Homo sapiens: one gene and its partners. The protein of the gene in region 3 interacts with the protein of the main gene of each other region in a pairwise test. Each region holds a gene or a part of one and is shown on either strand. Other genes may lie near its edges.

Region 1 (7,023 bases), on a different chromosome or scaffold from region 3:
TCCAGTCATCACGCTGTACACATTAAACATGTACAATTGGGTTTTTTTGAGACAAGGTCTCCTTCTGTCACCCAGTCTGGAGTGCAGTGGCTCAGTCATGGCTCATTGCAGCCTCGACCTCCTGGGCTCAATCCATCCTTCCCCCTCAGCCTCCTGAAAAGCTGGGGCCACAGGCATGTACCATCATGCCAGGCTAATGCATATATATTTATATTTTTTGGTGGAGATGGGGTTGGTCTCGAACTCTGGGCTCAAGTGATCCTCCCGCCTTGCCCTTCCAAAGTGCTGAGATTACAGGCATGAACCACAGCACCAGGCCTACATGTAAAATTTTTATTTGTCAACTATACTTTGACAAAGCTGAGAAAAAAAATCCTAATATTTAAAAAAAAAAAAAAAAGGACTAGCTTGAGACCTTTTCCAGCTCTCTGGCTTATCAGCTGCCGTCTCTTCCGGGTGCAGATAGCTGGAAGGGAAAGAAAATCCCTAAAATTACCCACAAGCCAAGAATGAAGTGTCTCCCTTTGAGCCACAGTGGCAGTTTTGTTTTTAATCATAGAAGTGTATTTTGAGCCGGGTGTGCTGGCTCACGCCTGTAATCCCCGCACTTTGGGAGGCCGAGGTGGGGGGCGGAGGGGGTGGGGATCGCCTGAGGTCAGGAGTTCGAGACCAGCCTGACCAACATGGAGAAACCCCGTCTCTACTAAAAATACAAAATTAGCCGGCGTGGTGGTGCATGCCTGTAATCCCAGCTACTCATGAGGCTGAGTCAGGAGAATCTCTTGAACCCAGGAGGTGGAGGTTGCGGTGAGCTGAGATCATGCCATTGCACTCCAGCCTGGGAACAAGAAAAAAAAAGAAGAAGAAGAAGAAGTGTATTCATTTCAGTTACTTTTAAAAAAGTGAACAGACTTTATATTTTAGAGCGGTTTTAGGTTTACAGAAAATGAAACAGACAGGGCAGCGAGCTCCTTGTACTCCTCCCCAGCACACAGTTGCCCTGTTATGAACATCCCACATCAGTGCTGTGCGTTCATTAACACCGATGAACCTGATGCATACATTATGATGAACTGAAGTCCTGGACTTCACCCTTTCTCTTGTACAGTTCTGTGGGATTTGACAAATGCATAATGCTGTACAGCCACAATGATAGTATCGTCCAGAGTAGTTCTCCTGCCTTAAAACCTCTTTTGCTGCACCTGTTTCTCTCTCCCCACTCACCCCAGCTATCTGATCTTCTTAGTGCCTCCGAAGTTTTGGTCTTTTCAGGATGTTGTAGCGTTGGAATCATGGAGTATGTAGCCTTCACCACATACACCTTCCTTCACTTTGTTGGCTTCCTTTACTTAGTAATATGCATTCAAGTTTCCTCCATGCCTTTTCATGGCTTGATAGCTCATTTCTTTTTAGCACCAAATAATATTCCGTTGTCCAGATGTAGCACAATGTTTATCCATTCATGTAACCTGTGACCGACTCACAGATAGGATGTGGAATCACTCACCACAGAGGCATTAGACAATAATCAGACCCAAGTCATTTCATGGGGGAACAAGCCCACAGGTACCAGACTGTCCAGTGAGTCAGGGCCACTCGTAGGAAGTAAGAAGAGAGGCTAGAGCATAGCCAGGTCCTCACTTTATACTTTAAGCCCATGTGTATTTCTCCCAAACCACACAGCATTGTTTCCATGCTTTCAGCTTTGCATGAATAACGTGATACTTGAACGCATCATTTATCACTTGCTCTCTTTCCCACAGCGCTGTTTTCAAGCTTCTTCCTGTTCATGATGCTCTGCTTAACCCTTAAGCTGCATGGGATTCTGTTCTGTGAATACGCCCACCCCATGTATTATCCTGCCCAGCAAAAAGTCCCCAAAACTCTGGATGGTGGTTACCTCTAGGGAGGGAGAGAAGAGATTGGGAATAGGGAGCGACTTCAACGGTGTTTGTAATGTTTTGTTTCTTTAAATAAAAGAGCTGAGATCATTTCAGCAGAATGTTGATTTAGAGTCTCCTGGACAATTTGTTGCTCAAAGTGCTCTCTTAAAGAGCACTTTAAAAAAAAAAACCTTTTATCTTATTATTTATTTATTTATTTATTGAGACGGAGTTTTGCTCTGTCACCCAGGCTGGAGTGGAGTGGTGTGATCTCAGCTCACTGCAACCTTTACCTCCTGGGTTCAAGCAATTCCCCTGCCTCAGCCTCCCAAGTAGGTGGGATTACAGATGCGTGCCACCACACTTGGCTAATTTTTGCATTTTAGTAGAGATCGGTTTCTCCATGTTGGCCAGGCTGATCTCAAACGCCTGACCTCAGGTGATCTGCCCGCCTTGGCCTCCCAAAGTGCTGGTATTACAGGCGTGAGCTACCATGCCTGGCTTATCTTATATATTTTTAAAAACAGCTTATTGAGATCTAATTTATGTACCATAAAATTCAAGTATATAATTCAGTGCTTTTATATATAAAACATATATATGAAATAGCTTATTGAGATATAATTTTTTATATAAAACAGCTTATTGATATGTAATGTATGTACCATAAAATTTAAATATATAATTCACTGGCTTTTATATATTCACGAATATGTGCAACTATCACCACAGTCAATTTTAGCATATTTTCATCAGCTCATAAAGAAACCCCAAGCCCTTGAACTATCACCCCATATCCCTCCTCCCAGCCCGTCCCTCCTACTCATAAGCAACCACTAATCTACTTAGTGTCTATAGATTTCCTACTCTAGGCATTCCATGTGAGCGGGATCATGCAATACGTGGGCTCACACAATATAAGTGGCATTCCATGTGAGTCGGCTCATGCAGTATGTCCGGCTCCTTTCACTGAGCATAAGGTCTTCAGCACTCATCCAGGTTGCAGCCTGTGTCTGAATTTCATTCCCTCTTCTGGCTGAATCGTATTCCATTGTGTATCTTGGACATATCCTATTCTGCTCACCCAGCCGTTGGTGGGCGTTTGGAGTGTTTTCGCCTTTCAGCTGTTTTAAGAGGGTTGCAGTGAACATTTGTACAAGTTTTGGACCCAATGCCTGTTTTCAATTCTCTTGTGTAGAGAGCACTTTTTAGCAGAAAAAGAATAGATTTGTGGCCTCCCTTTGTGTGCGGTCAGTGCCTTGAGAAGAGTGAACTGTGCTGCCACCTCCGGAGCCGTGGAGAGCGCGGGGCTTGGGTAGCAGCTAGGACGATACAAGTTGGGACAAGGCCAGGTGCAATGGCTCACGCCTGTAATTCCAACACTTTGGGAGACCGAGGCAGGGGGATCACCTGAGGTCAGGAGTTCAAGACCAGCCTGGCCAACATGGTGAAACCCCATCTCTAATAAAACAGAAAAATTAACTGGACGGGGTGGTGGACGCCTGTAATCCCAGCTACTCGGGAGGCTGAGGCAGGAGAATCACTTGAACCTGGGAGGCGGAGGCTGCAGTGAGTGGAGATCAGACCACTGCACTTCAGCCTAGGTGACAGAGCGAGACTCCGTCTCAAAAAAAAGAAAAAAAAAGAAAGAAACTCATGGATAATCCTCCCTCTCGTGCAGTTCGCCTCTACGGACCAAACTTCATCCTTCAGGTGTACTCATCTCAGAGGAAGTCCTGGCACCCTGTGTGCCAAGACGACTGGAACGAGAACTACGGGCGGGCGGCCTGCAGGGACATGGGCTATAAGTGAGTATGGGGCAGCACCCGCCGAGTGACAGTAACAGACAGCAGAAACACGAGAAGACCCTCTCTCTGCCTCCCTGTGAAAGCACCGGCACATGAGTGCTGGGGACAATTGTCACCTTCCAAAAGCTGAGCCCTATAACCAGCAGGTGGAATTTGTCCTGCTAGGGCTGTGCCCAGCACACAGACCTTGGCTCACTGCCACCTTGCCCTGCCTCCTCCTTGGCCTCTATAGACTCCTGGTTGCTCGGGAGTGCCCAGTGCTGTGGTCATCTGGTCAGAGGGGTAGGCTGAGGGCGTTAGGTGCCTCTTTTTCCAAGGTGCCTCTCAGCCAGGGTCCATTCACCTCCCTGGGTAGAGGTTGGACCAGAACAGCTGGCGAGGAGGGTTGGGCTGGGGAGAGCAGCAGAGACAAATCCTGTGCCAGTTTCACTTCATTCGGGAGCCATGGAAGCCTTTTGAGCTGGGGAGAGAATCAATCAATCAGACTGATACTTAAAAAATGTCATTCCTGCTCGTAGCTCTGAGGGAAGGTGGGAAGGCTTAACAGGGTGTGTGTCGCCTGACAGTGATTCCTAACGGGGGTGGGGCGGTGGTTACCATTTACCAGCACTGCCTGGGGAGATGCGGCAGCCCTCAGGCATCGGGGGAGAGGGTGGTAGGATGCTACTGCCACTTTGTTTTCCATGGGAGGGTCCCCAGGTGATTTCTATGCAACTTTAGGGTATTCAATATGCCAGTTTTCAGAATGAATTACCACTCGGTGAGAAAGTTGGCATCTTAGCTAGTCACTGTGACATCCCTAAACAGCAGGGGTGAATTACACAGCAAAGCCCCCCCATCACAGTCCAGGAACCTGGTGGAATTGATAACTGGGGCCATGTTAACATCTGTACCTTTTATTAGATTAAATGTGTGTATGATTATACAATCCTATGTCCTTCTCATAGTTTCTTGATCCTAACCTGGATAAGAAACACGACCAATGAAGGAATTTTGTCTGACACTTTAGGGTTATTGAATCGAAAAATCGTTACAATATTCTAGCACTTGGTTAGAACGTGTGATTTTTTTTCCTAAATGCTAAGGTTTTTCCCTCTTATTCTGAATGTCGTATGAGCGGTATTATGACATAGTATAGGATTTGTGTTTGCTTATGCCTTAACCATTATCACAAATAAGGTTTTCTTTTTTAGGAATAATTTTTACTCTAGCCAAGGAATAGTGGATGACAGCGGATCCACCAGCTTTATGAAACTGAACACAAGTGCCGGCAATGTCGATATCTATAAAAAACTGTACCACAGGTATGCAGCAATTTCTTCTTGAAAAATTTTGGAATGAAATCAACTAGGAGACACCATGGGGAATCGTTGTCCTGAGTCTGATTTCTCTGAGCTGCAATACTCGGTCTGGATGGGTTTTGCATTGGGAGGAGATTAGAGTCTGACCAGGCCTGGTTACTCTAAGCAGCCCTTGGTTTATTCATAGGAAGTGGCTGAGGTTTCTCTGCTATTTCATTTTCAGCCTCTACCGTCTGCCCTTGTTGGTAGCGGCTCACACTTGCAACATCGACATTCAACTCTATTTAGTTTTCTTTCCTCTTCAGACATTTAGAGGTGTACCTATTTTGTCAGGGCGTGGTTCTAGGAATCCAAGATAATGTCTCAGTGTCCCAGCCAGGGTGACCGGCTCATTCCAGTTTGCCAGGGACTTCACTGGCTTGAGCAAGGGAAGTCCTGCTCCATTCCAGGCAGCTGGGCTGGCTGGTCCCGTTAGCCCCAACCCCGGGACAGCAGTGCCAGAGGGTGCTCTGTGAGGGATGGGCAGCATTCTGGCGGCCTGGGAATGAGTTGTGGTGTTTCCAGGGGGTAGAAGTGGGTACAAGCCACAGGTCACATGATGAGTGGCTGACCTGGCTGGGAGGGCAGAAGAGGGGATGGACTTAGGCTCTTCCTTTTGCTTTGCACATATTTAGGATGTTTGCAGACTTGCTATGATTGTTGCTGTTATGTGTTTTCTGATGTGAAAGATACACAGTGTCCTTTGCCCATGAGCTCTCCTTGCCTCCCAGGTCCCCAGGGCTTATGCCTGGTGTCTAGGCATCACCTCCCTGCCTGCCAGGTGCCAGGTGCTGCATTTCGGGGGAGGATGAACTAATCACCCCGCGCCACCTTTCCTCTGAGTGGGAGCCTGGGGCAGGTTTGCATTCCTGGAGGCCGCTGGTGGAGGGGTCTGGGGGCCTGACTTCCACTGCAGCCTGCTGTCCTGGGGAATGTGGCAGGGCAAGCCCAGTGGGGAGGGCTGTGCACGGCCAGGTGCACCCATCAAAACAGCAGGGCTGCGGTTTGTCCCTGTGGAGAAGCTAAACACAGCTGCCTGGGCACTTTGTAAATGCTGAGTGGTTCTTTGTCTTTCTGGGTTACACACGGAATCAGGGAGCCAAGTCCAGCCGGGCAGGGACGGGGGGAGGGGAGGAGGTGCTGCCGTCCCTTGGCAAGAGCCTTGGGAACTCACAAGGAGGCTGGAGGGCTTGGAAGAAAGAAGAGAAGGCCATTGTCTGGTAGGCTCTATTCTATCTCGGTGGTGGTGGTGGGGGGAGGCGCACTTCTTTTCCTCTTTCTGTGCAGCAGTTGCCCTTTGATGCCTGAGTTCTTGGCTTGTTTTCTGTCGGGCTTCTGTGAATAACCACATGTGCCCTGGCGCTGTGACCACACAGGGCTATCCCTACCGACCTTAGGATTCTTAGGAAATGTCTTCTCTTAAAGGGGACATGTCTTCACTTGGCCGTGTCAGTGCCCCAGAGCCAGAGTCCACCTGGAATGCACCTGTAGTCACTGAGAACCCGGGGGGTGTGCCTTAGTAAGAAGGTGTCAGGAAGGACCTATTATTGTAGGGCCTGGGCTCCTGCAAGGTGGTTTGGGGGTGGTTGGAGGAAGCAGAGATTTGCTCTGGATTGGATGCTGTCAGGAAGCAGGGGTAATTCTGTGAGGCTGCTTTATTATTTTTTTTCTAGGAGGAGGTTGGAATGAGGCTAGGCTAAAGCTGTGATTGGTAAAGAAACGTCCGTCGCTCAAGTTAGCCAGGACAGGAGGAGACATCAGATCGTGATTTTGTGGTTGTGAGCACAAGGTTCCTGTTCTGTCTGTTCAGACATCATTTCGGAGGAGGCTCCTTGTGTCTTGCCCCATCTCAGGCATGGAGGGGCCTAGTCCGATATTGACGCTCAGTGAAATAATTCAGGTTCCGCAGAGCACACGGCCCAGCTATCAGGGCGGGCCAGCTCTGCATGCCAGGGGCCGCGTCTTCCCTTCTCAGCATAGCCTGGGAAATTC
Region 2 (6,390 bases), on a different chromosome or scaffold from region 3:
CGGGAAGAGGCCAGTTGTTGCAGGAGTAGCTGTCCCTAGGGGCAGAACCCAAGTCTGAAATTGGTCTCAGTTAGAGACAATGGGTGTCTCTTTCGGGGTCTTTGTTCAGAGGCCTCAGTTTCCCCATCTGTGACATGATGGAGTGAACTGACAGTGACCTCCCTAATGCCCTCCTGCTCTGAGATTTGACACTGTGGCATTGTTGTGCCCAGGCTCAGCCTGGCATTGGCGCTGGGCCCTATCTCTCATGGCTGTCTGAACCAAGGCCACGTGGGTTGGACTTCTCACATGGCCAAAGAGATCACAAGGTTTAGGGGCTTGAGATTTTTGCCCTACAAGTTGGCTAGTCCTAATAGGTGACCTCCATCTGCGACCTCAGTGAGCCCTTGGCTTTGTCTCCACTTCCATAGAATGGGGTTGACCCTTCACCAGTCTGGCCATGGGCACAGCCACGGCACCACCAACCAGCAGGAGGAGAACCCCAGCGTCCGAGCTGCCTTCATCCATGTGATCGGCGACTTTATGCAGAGCATGGGTGTCCTAGTGGCAGCCTATATTTTATACTTCAAGGTCAGAGCTGGGACACAGGGTGGTGGGGGTGGCAGGGGAGTGTAGACCACCTGAGTATACTCTCTACCGGGGTTTCTTTTCAGATTCTAGCTCCCTCCCAGTTCTAGGGAAAAGGGTGGGGAGAGGAAAGGAACATTTATCCAATACCTACCAAGTGTCAGCACTTCTGATCCTCACAACAACCTGAAGGGTAGGTGGTAGTGTTTTCTGTAGCTCAGAAAGGTTCAGTGACTTGCACAGTGTCACACAGCCGGTAAAGCATAGAGCCAGATTCAAGCCTACGACTGTGTGTTGTCAAACCCTGGGCAATGCCCATCACATAGAGGCAGGGAGCTGTAGTGGAAAGAGGCAGGCATTTGCTCTGAAGCTTGGCTCTCCTCCTTGCTAGCCATGTGACATTGGATGAGTTTGCTTGCTCTAATGGAGCCTCAATTTCCCCATCTGTCAAATGGGGACGGATGGCGGATCAGATGGTATCTAAGATGCCTTTTTGCTCTGTCCATGTCTCAGCTCCTTGAGAAGGAGGGGTGGGAAGGGACTGCCTTATTCTGAACTGTGGTCTGTCCTTTCTGCTCTTGCAGATGTGAAATAAAGAGCAGAAAACTGGGAGGCAGGGCCAGGGCGAGGCTCATGCCCACCCAGCAGAGAGAGCACCTCTCCCCAGCAGTGCTGGGTGGGAGGGGAGAAGGGAAGCTGAGGTGTTAGATGGTGAACTCCAGGTCTGCCTTCCTGTCTTCCTGCAGCCAGAATACAAGTATGTAGACCCCATCTGCACCTTCGTCTTCTCCATCCTGGTCCTGGGGACAACCTTGACCATCCTGAGAGATGTGATCCTGGTGTTGATGGAAGGTAACCTGGGCTTTGTGGCTCCCTTTTTGCTCTTGGCTCTCAAGCGCTAATCAGCTCAAATAGGGTATGTGTGTGTCTGGGGCATCCTAGCACATGGGCGGGGAGCCAGGATCCGGAGCCCCGGCATAGGCTGGAAAACCTCCTGGGGCCCCTGGGCTGATCTTGACATAGAGCCTGGGCTTTCAGGTGTGGCAGTTCCTGGAACCGTCCCCCAGCCCGAGTCTTCCCTTCCCCCTACCCCTAAGGGTGCCTCCTCTGCCTAGTCAGGTGGCTTCTGGGGGACATCTGTAGCATCTGGAGCTCTCCAGCCCTCCCCTATACACTTCCCCAGGCTCTGGCTGCCTTCTCTCAGGAAGAGAGAGGGGGTGAGGATTATGCTTCTCATTGCACAGAGGGGCAGACTGAGGCTCAGAGAAGGACAGTCAGCCTTGGACAAAGCTACTGAATCCACTGCAGCGCAGGCCTTTCCTACATCTCAGGGACCAAACAATGCCACACCCTGTGGGGACATGGCTGTGCTTTGTGGGGTTGGAGAACGGTCAGTGGTGGAGAATGATCTGGTCTGCCCTGAATTACCTTTTTTTTTTCTTTTTTCTTTTTTTTGAAACAGGGTCTTGCTCTGTCATCCAAGCTAGAGTGCAGTGGTGCCACCAAGGCTCACCGCAGCCTTGACCTCCTAGGCTCAAGTAATCCTCCTGCCTCAGCCTCCCAAGTAGCTGGGACCACAGGCGCATGCCACCATGTCTGGCTAACTTTTAAATGTTTGTAGAGATGGGGGGGGGGTCTCACTATGTTGCCCTGGCTGGTCTCGAACTTTTGGGCTCAAGCAATCATCTCACTTCGGCCTCTCAAAGTGCTGGAGTTACAGATGTGAGCCACCACACCTGGCCCTGCACCTTGGCTTTCTTATGCTCTAGGCCTGGGGTCTTGGGCCAGGGTCATAGGCCTCTGCGTGGTCAGGGTCAGTCTGGAATGGAGTAGGATGCTGGCCTGGGCTTAGCAGTATTTGGCTGCAGGTCAGAGCTTTTTCTCCAAGAATATGCTAACCCAGATGAAAGCGATAATGATGAAGATGATGATCGTGCCCTGGGTGGGTCCAAGGATTCTCAGGATCTGTTCTTTCCTTCTTTCCATTCAAAAATATATTTATTGGCCAGGTGCGGTGGCTCACACCTGTAATCCCAGCACTGTGGGAGGCCGAGGCAGGCAGATTACCTGAGGTCAGGAGTTCAAGACCAGCCTGGCTAACACAGTGAAACCCTGTCTCTACCAAAAATACAAAAATTAGCCGGGCGTGGTGGCATGCGCCTGTAGTCCCAGCTACTCAGGAGGCTGAGGCAGGATAATTGCTTGAACCAGGGAGGCAGAGGTTGCAGTGAGCCAAGATCACGCCACTGCACTCCAGCCTGGGTGACAGAGCAAGATTCCGTCTCAAAAAAAACCAAAAAATATATTTATTGAGCACCTACTATGGAGTAGGTGCTGTTTTAGGCACCAAGGATACTGTGGTAATCAAAGGAGACTGTCCTGCCCTCATGGAGTGTCCATTTTAGAGGGAGAAACTGACAATAAGTACATTCATAAATAATTTCAGTGTTAAGAGTGGAGAGGAAATACAACAGAGTGATAGGGCAGAGACCTTGGGAGGTGAAGGCAGCCTCAGACCTGCAGGCCAAAGAGGTCTTCTTTGAGGGGATGACACCTGAGGATCAGGAGCCAGCCCTGCACCAATGGGCAGGCGTGGGAGGGGTAGTTTCCTTTAGTTTCCCCTGTCCTTGCCGTCCTCAGGGACCCCCAAGGGCGTTGACTTCACAGCTGTTCGTGATCTGCTGCTGTCGGTGGAGGGGGTAGAAGCCCTGCACAGCCTGCATATCTGGGCACTGACGGTGGCCCAGCCTGTTCTGTCTGTCCACATCGCCATTGGTGAGTGCTTGGGACACTCAGGGTGGGGTGGGAGACAGGCAGCCAAAGGCCTAGTGCCATCCCCAACGGGTCCAGGTGACCCCAGATGCTCACAGTGCCCATGCATCAAGCCCAGCCTCATGCTGAGTACTTGATACGCATTATTCCATCTGATCAGCACAATCTCATTTATCCATGAAGAAACTGAGGCTGGGGTTGGGTGGTAAAGTTACTTGCCCAGGCTTTTACAGCTAGTATATGGCAGTAGGTGGCAGATTCCTGGCCTTAAGGCCAGTGCTTTACCAGCTCTTTCAGGCATGAGCCAGGTCTGGGCTGGGAGGCTACCTGGCAGAGGAATGGAATCTGGGGGCTTCTCCATGTTCATGGTCCCCCATCCTGTTCTGCTGGGGATGGGGTATGAGATTTGGGCTCCTGATGGTTCCAAAGGGCCAGAGTAAATGGCTTCCCCCGCTGTGTCCTCTCGGCCCCCAGCTCAGAATACAGACGCCCAGGCTGTGCTGAAGACAGCCAGCAGCCGCCTCCAAGGGAAGTTCCACTTCCACACCGTGACCATCCAGATCGAGGACTACTCGGAGGACATGAAGGACTGTCAGGCATGCCAGGGCCCCTCAGACTGACTGCTCAGCCAGGCACCAACTGGGGCATGAACAGGACCTGCAGGTGGCTGGACTGAGTGTCCCCCAGGCCCAGCCAGGACTTTGCCTACCCCAGCTGTGTTGTAAACCAGGTCCCCCTCCTGACCTCTGCCCCACTCCAGGAATGGAGCTCTTCCCAGCCTCCCATCTGACTACAGCCAGGGTGGGGACTCAGCGGGTATAAAGCTAGTGTGACCCTGCTCTTCCAGCTCCTGGGCCAGCTCTGGAAGGGCTGTATTTGGGCCTAATCCTCAGCAAATGTTCTACCACTCGCAGGGGCAAAGGTGGTGAGCCACGGGACGTCCAAGGGGAGGCTGGCCCCAGCGCGCCCATACTGCCTGCCTCATGCCCCATTCTCAGCCTGGCTGGCCTTTGCCTTTATGAATCTGAGCCCCTCCATCTGCCTATAGCAATAGGCACGGGGGTGAGGACCCTCACACTCTCATTTGAGCCTCCCTGAGGCAGGGAGCCAGGAGGCACCTGAGGCCTATCTGTGCCTTAGTCACTTCAGCTATGAGCCAAATGTTCCCTTTCCTGGAGGGGAGAGGCTTCTTACTAGGTAAGAGACAGGTTTCCTCTTTCCTTATTTCCTCAGCTGTGCCAACACAAAAAACAACTTTGGCACAGGTGGTGGGCAGGGGGTAGAGAGATTTCAGCTTGGGTTCTGCACTAACAGCCTCCAAGCCCCCTGGCACTTCTGTTGCCCTGAGAGTGTCCCAGGGGATTCAGAGTCTCCAGAAAGATATGGCTGGGCCAACTCTGTTGCCTACCTGGCCTGACCCAGTCGGAGCCTGACATGGTGGAGGGAAAGGGAGACAAGTGGGGCTGCACTCGGTCCAGAGGCCAGCTAGGAGGGAAACCGCAGCTTCCTGGGGCTTGTGTGTGAAGATTCCTGACTTAGGGGTGGCTTTTGTTTACAAGATGCAAGAGGGGAAACCTGTCCCCGACTCATCGAGACAACATGCCCAGTTATCAGGGAGTCCTGTGTCACAAGGTCTGTCTCTGCCATTGTAAGCAAGTGCCTTGGGCGAGCTGGCCTCTGCCCCACAGTCTCATCTGTACACCGACAGGGTTGATGCCTCCCTCACAGGGTTGAGAACAAGAGCCAGTTGGCCAAGTACCTGTGGTTGTTGAAGATTGGTTACTTTTACCATCCTGGGGACAGGGAACTCTGTGGCCCGAGGCTGCCTCACTGAGGAGTCAGGTGGGCTTCCCAGCCTCCCCAGGGGCAGTGCTGAGTTTGTCTTGACTGTTCTGGCCCAAGGTGGGAGGAGGTGGGTTTGGTCACTTGCCTCCCACTTTAAATCTCTGTCTTTCCATCTGTGAAATGACCTCTTTGTGCCTTCCCAGCACTGTCATCCTGATCGCCTGTGTTCTAGGTAGGTGGGTCCTTCAGCCCCTCCAGGTCTGTGAAAAGTCTGTGGAAAGCACTGGCCTGGAGAGGGGTGGGGGGTTGCTGGTGGGTGCTCCATTCCACCACAATCTCAGGGGACTCAACCTCCCCTACCCAACTCCCCACCCCCACCCAAGCCATGGCAGGCCCCAGGAACTTGATCCTGGGCTTTGCCGTATGCCAAGTCCTTACACCCCTCTCAAGAGACAGTCATTGGCTGGGCACGGTGGCTCATGCCTGCAATCCCAGCACCTTGGGAGGCTGAGGCAGGCAGATGACTTGAGGCCAGGAGTTCGAGACCAGCCTGGCCAATATGGCGAAACCTCATTTCTACTAAAAATACAAAAACTAGCCAGGCGTGGTGGCTTGTGCCTGTAATCCCAGCTACTCGGGAGGCTGAGGCAGGAGAATCGCTTGAACCGGGGAGGCAGAGGTTGCAGTGAGCTGAGATCACACCACTGCACTCCAGCCTGGGTGACAGAGCGAGACTCCAGCTTAAAAAAAAAAAAAAAAAAAAAAAAAGGAGACCATCACTGCTGTCCTGCATTCTTACAGATGAAAAAACAGGCTCAGAGGTTGAATCGTTTTCCTGAAGTCAGACAGCCAGTGCAGGCAGGTCTGGGATTTCTGCCTCATTTCGGTAGACCTTCCTCTACAGCAGGGTCTGGGGGCCTGTCGGTCTGCGCTGCCTGTTGGTACAATACAAACCCCTGGGACCAGCAGTGCCCGGCCCATGGGTGAGGACATGCCAAGGCAGTTCAGTGTCCTGGGTGTCACAGCTGTGATTGGAAAGGTGCCTCTTTCACCTGGCTGGGCCTGGCATCCAGCGCCCTCCCCACCCTGGGAAGGCTGCCTGGGCCCCAGCTGTATGCTTTCCCACCCACCCTCAGTTCTTGACTCCGGGCCGGACTGCCTCTCCCCCACCTCTTTAATTTCCAGTCCGCCCTGTACCTCAAGCATCTCACAGCACCACGCCTCCCAAGGGTAACCCACTCTGCCACTCAGCTGTGACTGGCTCTA
Region 3 (7,974 bases):
CCCTGCCATAGCTCGCCAGCCCATGAAGCCGATAAGGGCCACATAGACCCCCACCAGGTAGGTGAAGGCACCTGAGAGGCATGGGTAGAGGAGGGCATAGCACAGGCCCGACAGCGCTGCCATCACCAGACCTGTCCGAAGAGCCAGTGGCTGCATGCCAAAGGCCGAGGCGTAGAACATGTGGGTCACAGCAAACATCAGCAGACCTGGGGGTAAGAGGGGCAAAGGCAGCTGAGGGCAAGCTTGATGAAGAATGAGTAACAGGGTGGGGGTAGGGATGGATGTGGCGATGGAGTGGAGTGTTTGGGATAACCCAGCAGCTTTGCTTTGGGATAACAGGGGTAGGAAGATCTAAAGTTAAAGACCACCACCCCAGTCCCCTGAAGGACTCTGGAACTGATCACTAGTTCCCCTGCGAGGTCATCCCCTAACAAGGACCCTCACAGTCCCTGGCCTCAGAAACCCTCAGGCTCCCCACACTCTGGTTCAAGAACTCCCTCTTCCAAATCTTTGCCCACAGCCCAGGACCCTCTATCCCCCAGCCCCAGGACTCCTCCCAGGCAACTACTATGGCCACTGACCATGCACGAAGTATCCTTGGTCCTGCCAGATGAGGAAGGCGTCACCTACAGCAGAGAAGACAAGCCCCACAAAGATGCGGGTGGCGCTGGGGTGGGCCAGCAGGAATCCCAGGCCATGGGCCAGAAGGAAGAGCCAGAGGCAGAAGATAGGCAGGCACTTGATGAGGGTGCTGACCCACGATGGGCTAGATGAGGGCAGCCAGAGCACAAAATACACGCAGGTGGCCTTGAAGAACGGCACCAGTTTGGGTCCTTCACTCTTCACCTGGAGGACACAGGACAAGGGCAGCACTCAGAACTTGGGGGTTGAAAGCCAGCACCCTCAGCCTAGGCATCCACCCCAGAGACACTCCCATCCATACCCCCACCTCACTTCCACCCCCAACCTGAGAAGACTGACACAGAGAAACCCAGCCTGGCCTGCCTCTACCAGCCAGCAGGTTGTGGCCAAACCCATTACTGCCCTGAGGCTCAGTATATTAGGAGGGGCACCCTTCTGCAGCCTAGTGTGCTTCTCCCTTCCTGCCCCCTCCTTCTCCCTCCTCAGGGCCCCTTTAGCCCCTCCTCTCTGCCAGCAACAGCCCCCAGCTGTTCACTCTGGAATGGAGTGAAGTCAGTGGGAAACCACAGAGACACCCTGACTGGCCAACTCGTGATCCTCAGCATGGGGCCAGGGTGCAGCCTTAGGGCCCTGGCAACACCAGGTGTGTGCCAGGAATGTGGGAAAGCAGGCAATGGCAATCACCTCAGCCACCACAGCCTCTCTCCTCCTCAACCAGTCTGTTCCTCAGCCTCCACTCCACCTGCCCCAGCCTGAAGGTGGCATCAAGGGCAAGGAGGGCTATGCTAGGGATGCTGGCTAGATAAATGGACCCATGAGTTGGGAGCAAGAAAATTGTCCTTCAAACACCAAAGATTTCAAGGATTGGGGGAAGGGAGGGTGTGTGTCAGTCAGCCTCATTTCCCAGAGAACAAGAGCAACTCAAGCCACACCAGAAAGAGGCAGGAAAGGGGGGAGAGGTTCTATTCCCAGCTTCTGATCTGGAGCCAGCAGACAGGCTGGGAGATGGGGAACTGAGAGGGGGAAGTTAGAGCAGCTGACTTGGTCTCAGCCGGATTAGCAGAGGGCAGCTAAAGAAAGGTTGTACCCAAGGCCACTGCAGGCAGAGTCCAAGCTGGGGGAGGGGGCTGCAGCGATGTTCTGAATCTGTGATCCTTGAAACTCCTTTCCTTGGGCTGCTAACAGATCCATTGAGGGTGATATGGAGCAGCTGGAGTTCCCTGTACACCCACACTCTGCCCAAAGCGATTGTGTCTCTGGCTAGGTGAGCTGCCCAGCACAGGACTTGGGAAACACTCAGAGTCCAGACGACCAGGTACCTAAGGACTGATCAGACTGTGATGAGGAGGATTGGGAAGAGGCGGATGGGTGGTTCCAGGGTCCAAGCCTTTCCTTGTTCTGCCAGAGGTAAGAGCAGTGAGAAGAGATGACTTCCACTTCCCATGGAAATTAAGGCTGGTCAGGGTAGGGGCATGGTCAGAGGAGGCGGCTGGAGGGGATGCCCAGGCCCACAATGCCCAGCAACCACCTGCCAGCCCCTGGGAGCATTAACCTCCGCTCCATGGCCTCTCCCAGCCCCATATTTTCTAGAAGGAGATACTGGCAGTAGCTGGAGAGACCCTGACAGTTATAGGGAACCCAGTAGTAGAATAAGGAGGATGGGGAGACGAAACAAAAGGTTCAAGTTGAGAAAGTCTGAAAAGCAGGGGATGTCATAGAGAATGCCCCCTTTTCCCCCAGCGCGTTATCAGCGCTTCTTAGACTCAGGGGCGTCCGCCAACTTGTTTACAAAATGAGGAAGGTTAGGAAACAAACTTGGGACGGCATTCCCAGGAGGTCCCTGTTATCCTCCCAGCATCCCCCGCCCCCACGCCTCCCTGTGGTCCGCCTACGCGGAACTCTGCGGCCGGCAGCGGTCCCCTCCCTCTCCCGGGCCGCGACCCCGCCGACCCGCGCCAAATACATGGAGATCAACAAAGTCACGCTTCCGAGTCACGTGGCCAGTGTTTTCCTCCCTCCGCGGGCGGGCTGGGGGCGCGCGAGGAGGGGCGCCGCGAGTCTGAGGAGCGGGGGGCGGTGACAGCGCCCGCCTCCCGCCGCGGGACTCCGGCCGCCACGGGACCCCCGCCCCGCCTCGGCCCCTTCGGCAGCTCGGCCTGCCGAAGTCCGGTGGCCAGGCCGGTGGGCTCCAGCCGCGCCGGGCACTGGCTCGCTCGCTCGCTCACTCACCACAGTGACCGGGGACACCATGGCGGCGGCGGCGGCGGCTGGCACCCTGCTCCGGGCTGCAGCGGCCAGGACGCGCCCACGGCCAGGTAAGCCGGCGACGATTCTACAAAGCCCGGAGGGACGGACAATACCTCCCGAGCGCCCGGCGCCGGGGTTCTGTCAGCTAGCCCCGTGACGTCACCGCTGCCAGGGCCAATGAGCGGGCGGGAGCCGGGGGGGCGGGGCCCGGCTGGCGGCGCCGGCCAGGCCCCCGGCTGCTGCTCGGAGAAAGGAGGCATCTCCCAGGGGTCAGAAGGCGGATACCCCCCAGGCCCCGCCCCCTTGGGAGGCCGTGCCAAGGCGTCCACGGAACGTGAACGTGACCGTGACCCCGGTGCCTGGGTGAGGACTGAGCTTGGCTGAGAGACAAACACATTGCTGTCCTGGACGCACAGCCACATACATTTTCTCATAACCCGGGAGCAAAAGGCAAAGACAGATTCCCTTAAGCCTTTAAACATGCAGTCCACGCCGATACGATTGCAATTGGACTCACAACCTTCACTGTGTACAAACACACATCCAAATCATCAGCAAACACACAACCTTCGACTTGAAAAGCGGCACGTATATAGGTATGCAGCAGCCATGGACCCATAATCGTAGCATATACATCACACATACAGAATCATAATTACCCTTAAGCACTCAACAAGTACACAGATCCAAAACCAACAACCACAAATTGACATATATGCTCCATGTAAGAAAAGAGACATATACAGGGACTCTACAGCAGCTCGTAGACCCATGACCCTAATATAGAAACAAACACAGATAATTGGCCGTAGGCACACACCTCTTACAACTCAGAGACCACTGCCACACATACAAGAGCACCCCAAGAATGACAGACAGGCAGACCCAAAGAAGCGTGAGCTAACTTTGCCAAAAATACGTCCCAAGTGGATTTAATGTTGATTTTACGTAGACTAAAGGAACACAAGCTCATTCAGAGCGGTGCATGTTCAGAATCATTGGAATTACATGGAGAGGTAGGTGGCCAGATGGACTGAAATCTAGTCCCAGTTTTGCCACTTCCATGCTGTTAGATTGGGTGAATCACTTCCCCTCTCTGGTCTTGATTTCCTCACTTAGAAGATGAGCGGGTGAGTTCTAAGGTTCCACCCAACTCTGACATGTGTAGGTTGGGGAAGAGGAAGGGCTGCTGGTTTTAGGAAATTTAAGTCTAGCAATCCTGGAGATGGAGATTTCAGCTGTATCTCAAAGGATGGGCAAGTAGTCTGTAAGCTACTGTAGAAGGGCAGTAGCTGTGTGTCAGGCTTTGGGAATTGATGGGAAAGGGGTGACCAGCCCTAATTAGCAGCCAAAAAGGAGTTTCAAACATCCTGGCATGGTGACACAGGCCCTTGTGCTGGTCCTGAGCCTTGTGCTGTTTGGGCAGAGACCGACAGGCTGAAGTCTCCTGTAAGCCCCTCCCACAATGGGTCTCTTCCTTTTCCTTCTGGATCCTACCCAGTTTTCCCTAAAGTCCCAACACCCATTCAGAGGGGTGATAGTCCTCTTCTGGTGACAGAATTGGCAACCAGAGATTCAGAGTCCAGTACAACAAGAGTGAGAGTCAAGGCTTGGGACAGGAGTCACCCAGATCTTCCCCCCATCCCCTCCAGTCCCCTCCAGCATAGAGTTCTAAGGGTCAATGACCTCTGCCTACTCCTCTTTCTTTCCAGTTAGGGGCTTTGGGGAGAGCACCTTACCAGAATGAAGGACTATAACTGCTGCCCCAGGGCTTTGTCACTCACACACACACACACACACATTTCTACCAAGTGTGCTGCCTAGAGAGAACACTGGCTTGAGAGTTAGAAATGCCATTCTTAGTCCTAGTGCTTCCTTCTCCATGACTCACTACTGTGGTGTATAATTGAGCACATCATTCCATCTTTGGAGCTTCAGATTTCTCATGAATAAAATGGAGGAAATGGGCTAGTAGAAGGTGCAAATATTCCAGTTTTCCAGCCAAACCCTCTAACATCACCTGAGGGATAGTTCTCAAACAGAAATTTGCCAAGTCAGGGCATTTTTCATTTCTCTAGACCTTAGTTTGCCTCTCTATAAAAATGAGAAGGTGGACTATATCCGTGGTTCTCAACAAGTGGTACCTATCAAAATTACTTGGAAAGCTTTTAAAAACATAGATGCCGTTGCCCCACCCAAGACCTACTAATTAGTGGCACCAGTTCTAAGAAGCTTGCACATACAAATACCTAACAATACAAAACATGAGACTTAGAACTCCCATCTACAGGGTTCCACTCAGTGCTTGATTACCCAGTAGGCAAACTAATCATATACACAAGTCGCCTACAAAGCAGAGGCATCCCCCCTCAATGCCGGTTTTTCTCCATTTGCCTTCCCACCACCTAGATTCATTCTTGGCTCTTCTCTACCCTGTCCTGGGAGCCTGAGCTCTATGGACTGTATCTTCAGGGATCACCAGGGCCCTGGCTTCTGGCTGAGTTCAGCCAATGAAATTCAGAGGCAGGAGATGAGAACATGGACGAGGCCTGATGGACCAGGCTGAGATTCTGGCTGTGGCCTGCTTCTCCATGGCTACAGCCCCAGGCTCCCTCCCCATACCTTCAGGCCAGGGGTGGCAACAGTTTCCTGCTGTTGCTAGTCTTTTTTTTTTTTTTTTTTTTTTGAGACAGGGTCTTGCTCTGTCCCCCAGGCTGCCATGCAGTGGTGTGATCTATGCTCACTGCAACCTCTGCCTCCTGGGTTCAAGCGATTCTCCTGCCTCAGCTTCCCTGGTAGCTGGGATTACAGGTATGTGCCACCACGCCCGGCTAATTTTGTATTTTTAGTAGAGATGGGGTTTTACCATGTTGGTCAGGCTGCTCTCGAACTCCTGACCTCAGGTGATCCACCCGCCTCGGCCTCCCAAAGTGCTGGGATTACAGGCATGAGCTACTGTGCCCAGTGCTATTGCTAGTCTTTAGGTGCCTCCTCACCCATGGCTAGTTTCGTCTCTGCAAATAGTCATTAAATTCTCTTCAGTTAAATTATTGAGTGTGCCAGTACCCTGGCTGATATAGGCACCCACAAAGCAAGGGCACCACCCTCTTCCCAAAGAGAAAGAGCTTATTCTGACTTCATTCATATGGTTGAGATTTGTTGTTTCAAAAGTAAATTTTCATTTACTATTTACTAGTGTTTACTATTTACTAGTGTTTTTATTTTGAATTGCATATTGCAGGAGGCAGAAAGTGGGATAAGGCTTCCTGAAAATGGGCATTTCTCCCTTTTGGTAGGAACTGGCATTTCTTCCTTTCCAACCTATTGGCATGGCCCTTTTCACACAGCTTTGTAATTTTCCCTGTGCTTGTGAGCCCATTCACTCACTCATTCATCCAACAAATGTTTACAGTGCACCTAATATGTGCTAACCACTGTATTAGGTTCTGGGGTGTAAAATATTGAGTAAAATATATTCTCTATCCTTATGGAGCTCACAGTTCATTTCAGACAGGCAAGTAAACAATTATTCAATGTGGTAGCTGACCTAATGAAGTATGAAGGTGTCACAGGTGGCATTAAAAAAAGACATCAGAATTATAAATTACACCTGGAGCAATTGCAGGAGCTAGAGTTAAATCTAGAAGAACGAGTTAGTCTTTATTGAGCAGACACCAATGTATATGCCATTCTAGGCAGAGGGAATTGCATGTGTACATAAGAGCACAAGAGACACACTGAATTCAGGGAAATATCTGTAGTACTGATTCGAGCTGGGGAGTGAGAAGGTGAAACTGAAGAAGCATGAGCCAACTCAGATCTTGAAGATTCTACTCAGCCAGGCGCGGTGGCTCATGCCTGTAATCCCAGCACTTTCAGAGGCCAAGGTGGGCAGATCACCTGAGGTCAGGAGTTCAAGACCAGCCTGGCCAACATGATGAAACCCCGTCTCTACTAAAAATAAAAAAAATTAGCTGGGTGTGGTGGTGGGCACCTTCAATCCCAGCTACTTGGAGAATCGCTTGAACCCAAGAGGCAGAGGTCGCAGTGAACCGAGATTGTGCCACTGCACTCCAGCCTGGGCAACAAGAGCAAGACTCTGTCTCAAAATAAATAGATAAATAAAAATAAAAATGAAGGTTCTACTAAGAAGTTTAGACTTGACATAGTAGATGACACTAAACCAATTGTCCTCTGTTCCTTAGCATCTCTAATTGTGCCCGCTGTCATCCACCAGCGACATGGGCAATGCACAGAAATGATGACCCATCATCATTCTGAGCTTGCCTCGCTTCCCCCATGGGGCTTCTTCTCACCCAGTGGCCTCCTTCATCTCTGACCTCTGTTGTTTTGCCACAGGATATTTTTCCTCACTTAGTTTGTCCTGCTTGAAATCATAATCCAGCCCTAAACTGATTATCTTATTCCCAACCTGATGCTGGATCTCAGCTAATTTCTTTTCTGTTTCAGGCCTCCAGAGCACTTTTTTTTTTTTTTTTTTTTGAGACAGAGTCTCGCTCTGTCGCCCAAGCTAGAGTGCAGTGACGCAATCTCAGCTCACTGCAAGCCCCGCCTCTCCAGTTCACGCCATTCTGCTGCCTCAGCCTCCCGAGTAGCTGAGACTACAGGCGCCCACCACCACATCCAGCTAACTTTTTGTATTTTTAGTAGAGATGGGGTTTCACCATGTTAGCCAGGATGGTCTCGATCTCCTGATCTCATGATCCGCCCGCTTCGGCCTCCCAAAGTGCTGGGATTACAGGTGTGAGCCACTGCACCCAGCCTCCAGAGCACTTTTAACCAACTCTCAGGGTCACCACACATACCCGATTCCACCCCCACCCCACCTGCAGATATGTCGAAGAAATCAGAGATGTTAAGGAGGGTGTGACAAGGTCAGATGTTCTGATAACAGTGTGAGGGCGTCAGTTGTTGAGTTGTAAGGAGTGAGCTGAATGTGTGTGTCAGCCTAGTGGAGAATGTTTGGGTGGAACTGGATACAAAACTAGGGCTCAGGCTCACAGGGAAGATTTGGAAGTCTCAACCATACTGAAAGTCTATGGATGTGATGAACCAGAGAGGAGC
Region 4 (7,434 bases), on a different chromosome or scaffold from region 3:
AAAGGAGGTCGTCTTGTTTGCAGGAAGAGGTGGTACCGTGGGGGTGATGACCTGTGCACATGGCTTGAGCTTTCCTTGCTGCCAGGCACTCGTGGCATCTCTTGCTCACCAGGTAGATGAGCTCCACGAGGTTGAGCAGGATGCAGATGGCAGCTGTGGCCACCATGAAGAGGGTGAAAATGTTCTTCTCTGAGGGCTTGGAGATGAAGCAGTCCACTATATTGGGACATGGATCTGCGTGGCACTTGACCACAGGAGGGAGGATATATTTGGGGTAGAATGAGTGGAACACATAGAGAAAGGCGATGTCCACGCTCGCCTTGAACACTAGGCTGCAGACATATGTCCACCAGAGCCCACCCCGCTTCTTGCCGGGGTTCAGGTAGAGGCGCCCACTGTTCTCCCCATGGGCTTCTCGGTGCCTCTTCTCCTGAACCTCCCGGTAGGCCACGTGCATGACCACGAGCAGTGAGGGGCATGTCACCAGGATAAGCTGCAGGGCCCAGAGGCGCACATGGGACACAGGGAAGAACTCATCAAAGCAGACGTTGGAGCAGCCGGGCTGGCGAGTATTGCAGTCGAAGTCCTTGTGGTCATCACTCCACACACGCTCGGCCGTCACCAGGTACACCAGCACGCGGAAGATGAAGACCAGAGACAGCCAGATGCGCCCAAAGGCTGTGGAGTACTTGTTGACCCCACTCAGGAGTCCCTCAAAGATACTCCAGTTCATGGTGGACCCACGCGTCAGCTGCTACTGCAGGGAAACAAGAACAATCATTTCCTACATTTATCACAGACTTGCTCTGAGCACTTTGTAGAAATATGTCATCACATTTCATCCTTACCATCACTAGAGGAGCTGGGTTCTACTACTGTCCCCATTTTGTAGAGGGAGGGAGCTGAGGTTTAGTGGCATTATATACAAGGTTACACAACTATTAGGTGCAGGGCTGGGATTTGAGCATAGGTAATTAAGTCCAGAACCCAGCTCTTACCAATACCAGTGGATAAGGGCAGGTCCAGGGAGCCACTCATTCCTCCCCGGGCCTGAGGCTCTGGTCTTGAGGTTCTGCAGAGTGAAGACTGGTGGAGCTGGGACATTCTGCCTGCTCCCTCTGTTTCAACCCTGGCCCTCCTCCTCAGGGGGGCTGAGCCTTGAGATGGTTCTCTCCTTTCTGAGCACTGCTGCCTCTTCTCAGACAGCCCCTTCCCCAGGGGAACCTGCTCTTTGTCCTTTTCTTGGCTCAGGGATGGGACTGGAAAGGAGGCTGGAACCTTGTCCCCAAGCCCCCATCTGGTCTAACACTCTGTAATTAGCCAGGCAGAGTCCTGCTCAAGTGCCACTCAATGCAATCCAGCTGAAAGCTAAAGCAGGCAGCAATAAATTCTCTTCATACAGTAGGTTTCCTAGAGTAACCTGGTATTCCAGTGTTTCCCAAACAGTGTTCCCTGGAACCCTGTCCCATAGGTTGGCAATAGGAGAAGTGAGAGAAGAGGATTCTGTGTCAAGAAAAGTTGGCAAACATTGGGTTTAGTAAAGTTAAATAGGGTTCTTTTGCTCAACCGTGCTAATAAACTCACTAATAAATTCACCAAAAGAGGTATGAAATATGTGGCATTGCCCAAACTCATTTGCCCACAGAAGCCCTTTTCCTCCTGACATAACATTTATCATCTTGTGGAACAGCCTTGTCAAGACATCAAGTGGGAAATGCTGCTCCTGTCAGTTCTGCTGGTGAATTTGGCCTGATGAACTCACAGAATCAGATTCACCTCCGCGTAAGGACTGTGACTGCTAGGCAGAGTAAGGGGTCCCCACTTCCTCACCCGCGAGTCCTCTGCCTGATTCCTGGAGATGGGGGTGTGTCCATTAAGACCCATGCACTGTGGTTTCAACCAACTGTGCACCCTGGGACCCCAAGGAACCTGTCTGCCTAGCCACTAAAGGGCTCATGATGGCCTTCCCATGCTGGTCCAGGCTGAAGCTCACCAGGCTCTCTGGAGCCTCTGCATGATCAACTGCAAAGCAGAGTAGTGATAACAGCCAATATCCATGAAGCATTCATGCCGTGCCAGGCACCGCTCTAAGTTCTTTGTATGAATCAGTACATTATTCCTTCACAGCAACCTTAGGAAAGGGCATATTTTTTATTCCCAATTTACAGATGAGGAAAGAGGAACACAGAGGGATTAATTAACTTGCTCAACGTCACACAGCTAATAAGTGGCAGAGCTAGGATTTGAACCCAGGCAGGCTGGCTCTAGAGCCCACCCTCCGGGAACTGCCCAGCCTTAGGCCTCAGACCCTTTCCTCAAGTTTCAATGAGCTGCCTGCCTGTTTGTGTGCAGACGGATTCTGTCCTTCCCCTTGTGTGTGGATCCTGGATGAGGGTGGCTGGGGGAACCTTTGCCCACCACCCTGTCTCCACACCACCTGCGCCACTTGGACGGGGGATGGGTGGAGGTGGGGGCCGGGGTTGGGGGGAGCTCTGTTTTGAATCACCATCTTGCATGCTCAGTCCTGTCTAAGGTAGGACTCCTGCAGCTTCTCAGGGAACACCCAGGAAGGCCCCGCCCTTAGCCCCAGGGGCTCTCACCCAGCCCATCCCTACTTGGGGAGGAGTGGGGCAGGGCTTTGCAGGCCCAGGCAGAGCTACCCTGCCTGCTGAGCTTCCGGCCTGGCCCCTGCTCCTACCTTTGCCCGGCTGGGGAGACCTGAAAGAACCCAGAGCCCCTTATTCCTCCACCATCAGGACCCAGGGTGGCAGATGTGTCCAGGCCACATCCCACCACTCCCCAGCAGAGAAGTGTCCTCCTGCCACGTATGCCAAGGGGCAGGGCACATGCGGACACAGATGCCCTTACCTGAGTGACTACTCCTCAGGGCTCTCCTGGCTCCCAGCAGCCGGCAATAGGACTCAGCAAGCAGCTTGAATTTCATATCCAGAAGCGGGGAAGGTTTTCGGGGAAGCCCGTTGAAGCCTGTTTCCAGGACAGAGCCTGCCGGGTGTGCTGGCCCAGCCTGGGAGGAGGAGGAGCTGGGACCTGCACTGCCATTGGCTGGGCCCCAGCCTCCCCAGACTGCTTCTGATGAGGCTCAGGAAACTGAGGGGTTCACTCCTCCCAGGGCGCTGAGCCTCGAATCCTGGTATCCTCTCAGGGGAGAGCCACAGGTCCACTCTGACTCCTTGTTCATCCTCCCATCTGTGGGCTTGTGTGGGAGAAGCTGAGGCCTGAATCCCAGCTCTGCCACTTTCTCACTGTGTGATTTCTTGCCTTCTCTGTGAAAGTGGGAAAAGAACAACACCTACCTCATAGGGTGGATACGTGGATTAACCCAGCCTTAGGGGTGAAGTGCTTAGAACAGTGCCTGACACAAGGGAAGCCCTGTCTACAATTGCCTATAATGCGTGTATACTGCCCAGCACAGGCCTGCCGCATGGTATGTCCTCAAAAAAATGTTTCTTCCTCCTCCTTTTCCTTATTCCTAGGCCTTTTCTTTCTGAGATACAGGGAAGGCAGAGGAGAAGGGAGGGAGAGAGAGACGTATGCACTAGAGAAAATCTCATTTGGATGCATGTTGTCTTTGGGTTAAAAAGGCCAAACCCAAGCCAGGCAGGAACCACAGGAGAGGTGGAGAAGGTGGGCAGGGGCACCTGGGGAAAGCTTCTCATTAGTGCACAGACACGGTCTTTTGGCCTAATTGACTTCCAAGGTGCCCTGTATCAGCAGGTCACTTGGGGTCAGGATTCAACAGACAAAGCATCCAGGAGCCACAAACACCTCATGTCCACAAGCAAACACAATGTAGCTTCACATGAGCATACTCTTACACACAGGCCACAATTATGGGCACAGTGTTGCACACACATGCAGCAGTGGCTTTATTTTATTCACTGCTCTATCCCTTGTGCCTAGTATGGTGCCTGGTGTCTTGTCCAGTTAGGCTTCAATTTATATTTATTGAATGAATGATGTGTGAAATGCACACACCCTGCAGAGAGTCACACATTTCTATACTCCATGCTCTTTCCAAAAAGCTGTTGCCAAGTACAGGAGAGAGGAGGCATATAAAGAGATCAGTTACAACATTGTGAGAAGTCCTAGAAAAGACACAGAGAGAGAAGGGAGTTTTAAGTTCTGCCAGAGGGAGAGCCGGAGAAGGTAACATTTAAGCTGGGTCTTGAAGGATGTATAGGAGTTTACCAAGAAGAGATGCTGAGGAGGGGCCTTTGAGGCAGTGGGCACATAGCGTGCAGAGGACCTTTGTGAAAAATAATGGAAGAGCATTGGAGAGTGGGCTGGGTAGTGGTGGGGACACCACATGGCAAGGAGCCTGGAAGGTCAGCAAAGACCTTCCAGACCATGAAGGACCTGGAATGTCATGCTAAGGAGTTTGAATTTATCTTGGGTGCAGAGGGAGGCATGAGGGAATTCTTTTCTTTTTTCTATTTTTACATTTTGTATTGTGCTGAGGCAGGAAAAAGGAAGAGACATGGTCAGATTGGTACATTTGATTCTCATTATTCAAGGTAGTTATAGTCTATGAGTCACCATGAGCACCAAGTTAGTGAATATTGAAGCATTCTTCCTAGAGGACATATGAGGTTAGGTTCCTGCAAGCTTCTGTTTACAATGTGGTTATCAACTGATCAATACAGAAGTCTGTTTTATGTGTGTTTCTGAAGACACCTTGTTTAATATATATTGTTGACTCATTAATATTGGACTCATAGCCAACACCACTATAACTCATGACTGAATGAAGCTTGTCTAACACACATATTTTTTCCATAAGGCTCATCGTAGCCTTCGTGTGCTTAGAAACACTAGATGGCACTTCAGCACTGTACTCGGGGCCATTTCAAACAGCAAATCCCCAGCAAAAAGCAAGAAATGAGAAAAACATGGCACCAAGTAGACCTCCAATAGAACATGTTTATAGCATTAGAGCTGAAAGGGGAAGGCAGAATGTCACCTTGTTCAGCCACAGCTGGGAACACGTGCATTGGGAGACTCAAATTTTTGCCACTCTGTGCATGTTATAAATGGCCATGAAAGTGTCTTAAGTGTAGATTTTGGCTTAGGAATAAATTGTGGTGAGCTGGAGAATGCACAATACGGAATCTGTGAATAATGAAGATCAACTGTATGTTTAGAAAGCTTCCTCTGTTTGAGAAAAGAGGCTGGAGGGGCTTGTGAGACCGGTATGAAAGTTACTGCAATGATTTAGGCAAGAAATGAGCAAGAGGGTTGGATTTGGGAAATAGCTGGTAAATACAGCTGGCAGCTTTGGGGGACTGACTTGGGGGACTGACTGGATGTAGGATGTGAGGCAGGAGGCTGACCTAGGATGGTTCATAGGTCACTGGTTTTGGTGATTTGATAGGTGATTGGGCCACTGATAGAAATAACCCTATGAGGTAGGAACTCCAATGGCTCCATGTTCCAGATGGGAAAACTGAGGCCCAGAGAGGCTAAGAAACTTGCCTGGGCTTGCACAATCAGTAATCAGGAGAGCTGGGGGTGGAATTCAGGTAGCTGAGCTCCAGAGCCAGTGCTTTTAACACCGTAATGCTTCAACATCTTCATACCCAAGGATTTGGCAACACTGTCGGCTCCTTTATGCTTGATAAACAGAATCATTTACTCATCGTCAAATATTCATTAAGCACCTACTATGTGCCACGTGTTGCGCCTGATAGTGGAAATAAATCAGTAAGCATGGTTCTCATGGTTCAACCTCTGGGCCTGGTCCTCTTGAAGATTACAGTCAAAGGAGGAAATAAGACATTAAACACACACACACACACACACACACACACACACACACACACACCAATAACTCTAAAAATGCAATTGTGATAGAGTCACAAAGGAGAAGCACAGTGCCAAGAAAATGTATAATGGAGAACCAGACCTAGTTTCAGGAAGCAGGGAAAGCCTTTCTGAAAGTGTAAGATTTAAATTGAGGCCTGGAGCTTTCTCCTCTGCCAGTAACCCTCTGCCTGCTTCCTAAAATGCCAGCACTCTCCAGAGCTCTCCTGGATTCTCTTCTCTCAGTGCACTCTCCACAGGCTGTGGCTCCTACCACCAGCTTGGGGCTGAGGACTCCAACTATTGCTGCCACCTCGTGACCCTGGATAGTTCATGTGGCTCTTACTCAGCACACGTAGCACTGAACTCATTAACTCCAAACACATCTGTGATGAACCTATGCACCACTTTTCCCACTCACTCCCCCTGCTATGCTTGGAATGTGTCCCCCAATGCTCTCATGTATTGAAACTTAACCCCCAATGCAACAGTGTTGGGAGGTGGGACTTTAAGAGGTAATTAGGTTAGTTGGATTAACATCGTTATCATGGGAGTGGGTTTGTTATCATGAAAGTGGGCTTATTATCAAGTGAGAGGTTTCAATGGAGGCTTCATGGCTGTTCTTTTACTGAGGGATGGGACTCAGGGGATGCTGGAAATCCAGGAGGGAGCTGGAGGTGGGAAGGGTGGAAGGTGGGCATGACAGAGAACAGGCAAACCTGGAAAACAGGGAAAGAGTTGTGTGATGGGCAGAATCCACACAGACCTGGGCTCAAACCCCATTTCTGCTCCCTAACTATGTGGCCTTGGTCAACTCATTTTTTCTCTCTGAGCCTTAGTTTCCTTTCTTTCGAATGTGGAAGGGGTCGGGTGGTGCTGTTGTGAGGAGTGCTTGAGAGGATGTATATAAACATGGTGATTTACAGCTGGCATGTCTCACACATTCATTTTCTTCCACTCTGTGGGCTGTTGCTCTCTGACCTGTTGGGTGGACATTTGCTTTTCCTCTGGGACGAATGGTCATGCTCTTCCCCTATGATGTGCCTCCTTTCCTAGGCCTCTAGACCTACTCCACCAGCTCTACCCATGCTTCCAAGCTCAGTCCGAGGAGGCTGAAACTGGGATGTGCCCCTTGGTCTCTCCCTACGATTTCTGAGGCTCTGCATGAGCTGGGTCATGGAGAGGCTCACCATTCCTGAGACTGGGGCCCAATGCTTCTAGGTATCCTCGTCCCTCCAGCCCGGCCCACACTAAAGCTGAATCATTGGTCTCAATAACACAGTGTTTTGCCGTCTCTGGGCGGGTTGTCTCAGTTCCATTTGGGGCCTCTCTTTTAGAGGATTGAGGGCTCATGAGCAGTTCTTGAAGCTTTGGCCACTGGCTGCCACATTTCCCCTTGCTAACAAGAGTTCCAAGGCCAAGGACCTTCCTGTTGGGCTCTTGCCTGGATGCTCAGAATCTCTGCTGAGTCATGGTCCAGTGTGGGCACCACAGGACTTACTGAAAGTAACCAGACAGCTCTGCATTTTAAATCTGGTTCCATCAAGTGGTCAGTACACGTAGCAGGTGCTATCAGTATCTGCCCCAGATCCTCTTGGCATACTCCTTTTCGGT

The links.
Region 1: the proteins of TMEM86A (region 3) and TMPRSS2 interact in binary tests that used the Homo sapiens proteins (3 or more experiments, as listed by UniProt).
Region 2: the proteins of TMEM86A (region 3) and SLC30A2 interact in binary tests that used the Homo sapiens proteins (3 or more experiments, as listed by UniProt).
Region 4: the proteins of TMEM86A (region 3) and GJB5 interact in binary tests that used the Homo sapiens proteins (3 or more experiments, as listed by UniProt).

What each region holds. Positions count from the first base shown.
Region 1 is NC_000021.9:41,477,144-41,484,166, reverse strand, and holds part of TMPRSS2 (transmembrane protease serine 2), read left to right. Parts: intron 1-3,564; coding exon 3,565-3,691; intron 3,692-4,884; coding exon 4,885-4,995; intron 4,996-7,023. UniProt on the Homo sapiens protein: Plasma membrane-anchored serine protease that cleaves at arginine residues. Participates in proteolytic cascades of relevance for the normal physiologic function of the prostate.
Region 2 is NC_000001.11:26,036,729-26,043,118, reverse strand, and holds the end of SLC30A2 (proton-coupled zinc antiporter SLC30A2), read left to right. Parts: intron 1-410; coding exon 411-570; intron 571-1,313; coding exon 1,314-1,419; intron 1,420-3,207; coding exon 3,208-3,342; intron 3,343-3,813; coding exon 3,814-3,959; 3' UTR 3,960-5,867; downstream 5,868-6,390.
Region 3 is NC_000011.10:18,693,805-18,701,778, reverse strand, and holds the start of TMEM86A (lysoplasmalogenase TMEM86A), read right to left. Parts: upstream 3,001-7,974; 5' UTR 2,893-3,000; coding exon 2,872-2,892; intron 847-2,871; coding exon 582-846; intron 207-581; coding exon 1-206. UniProt on the Homo sapiens protein: Catalyzes the hydrolysis of the vinyl ether bond of choline or ethanolamine lysoplasmalogens, forming fatty aldehyde and glycerophosphocholine or glycerophosphoethanolamine, respectively and is specific for the sn-2-deacylated (lyso) form of plasmalogen.
Region 4 is NC_000001.11:34,750,630-34,758,063, reverse strand, and holds the start of GJB5 (gap junction beta-5 protein), read right to left. Parts: upstream 3,018-7,434; 5' UTR 2,869-3,017; intron 758-2,868; 5' UTR 734-757; coding exon 1-733. UniProt on the Homo sapiens protein: One gap junction consists of a cluster of closely packed pairs of transmembrane channels, the connexons, through which materials of low MW diffuse from one cell to a neighboring cell.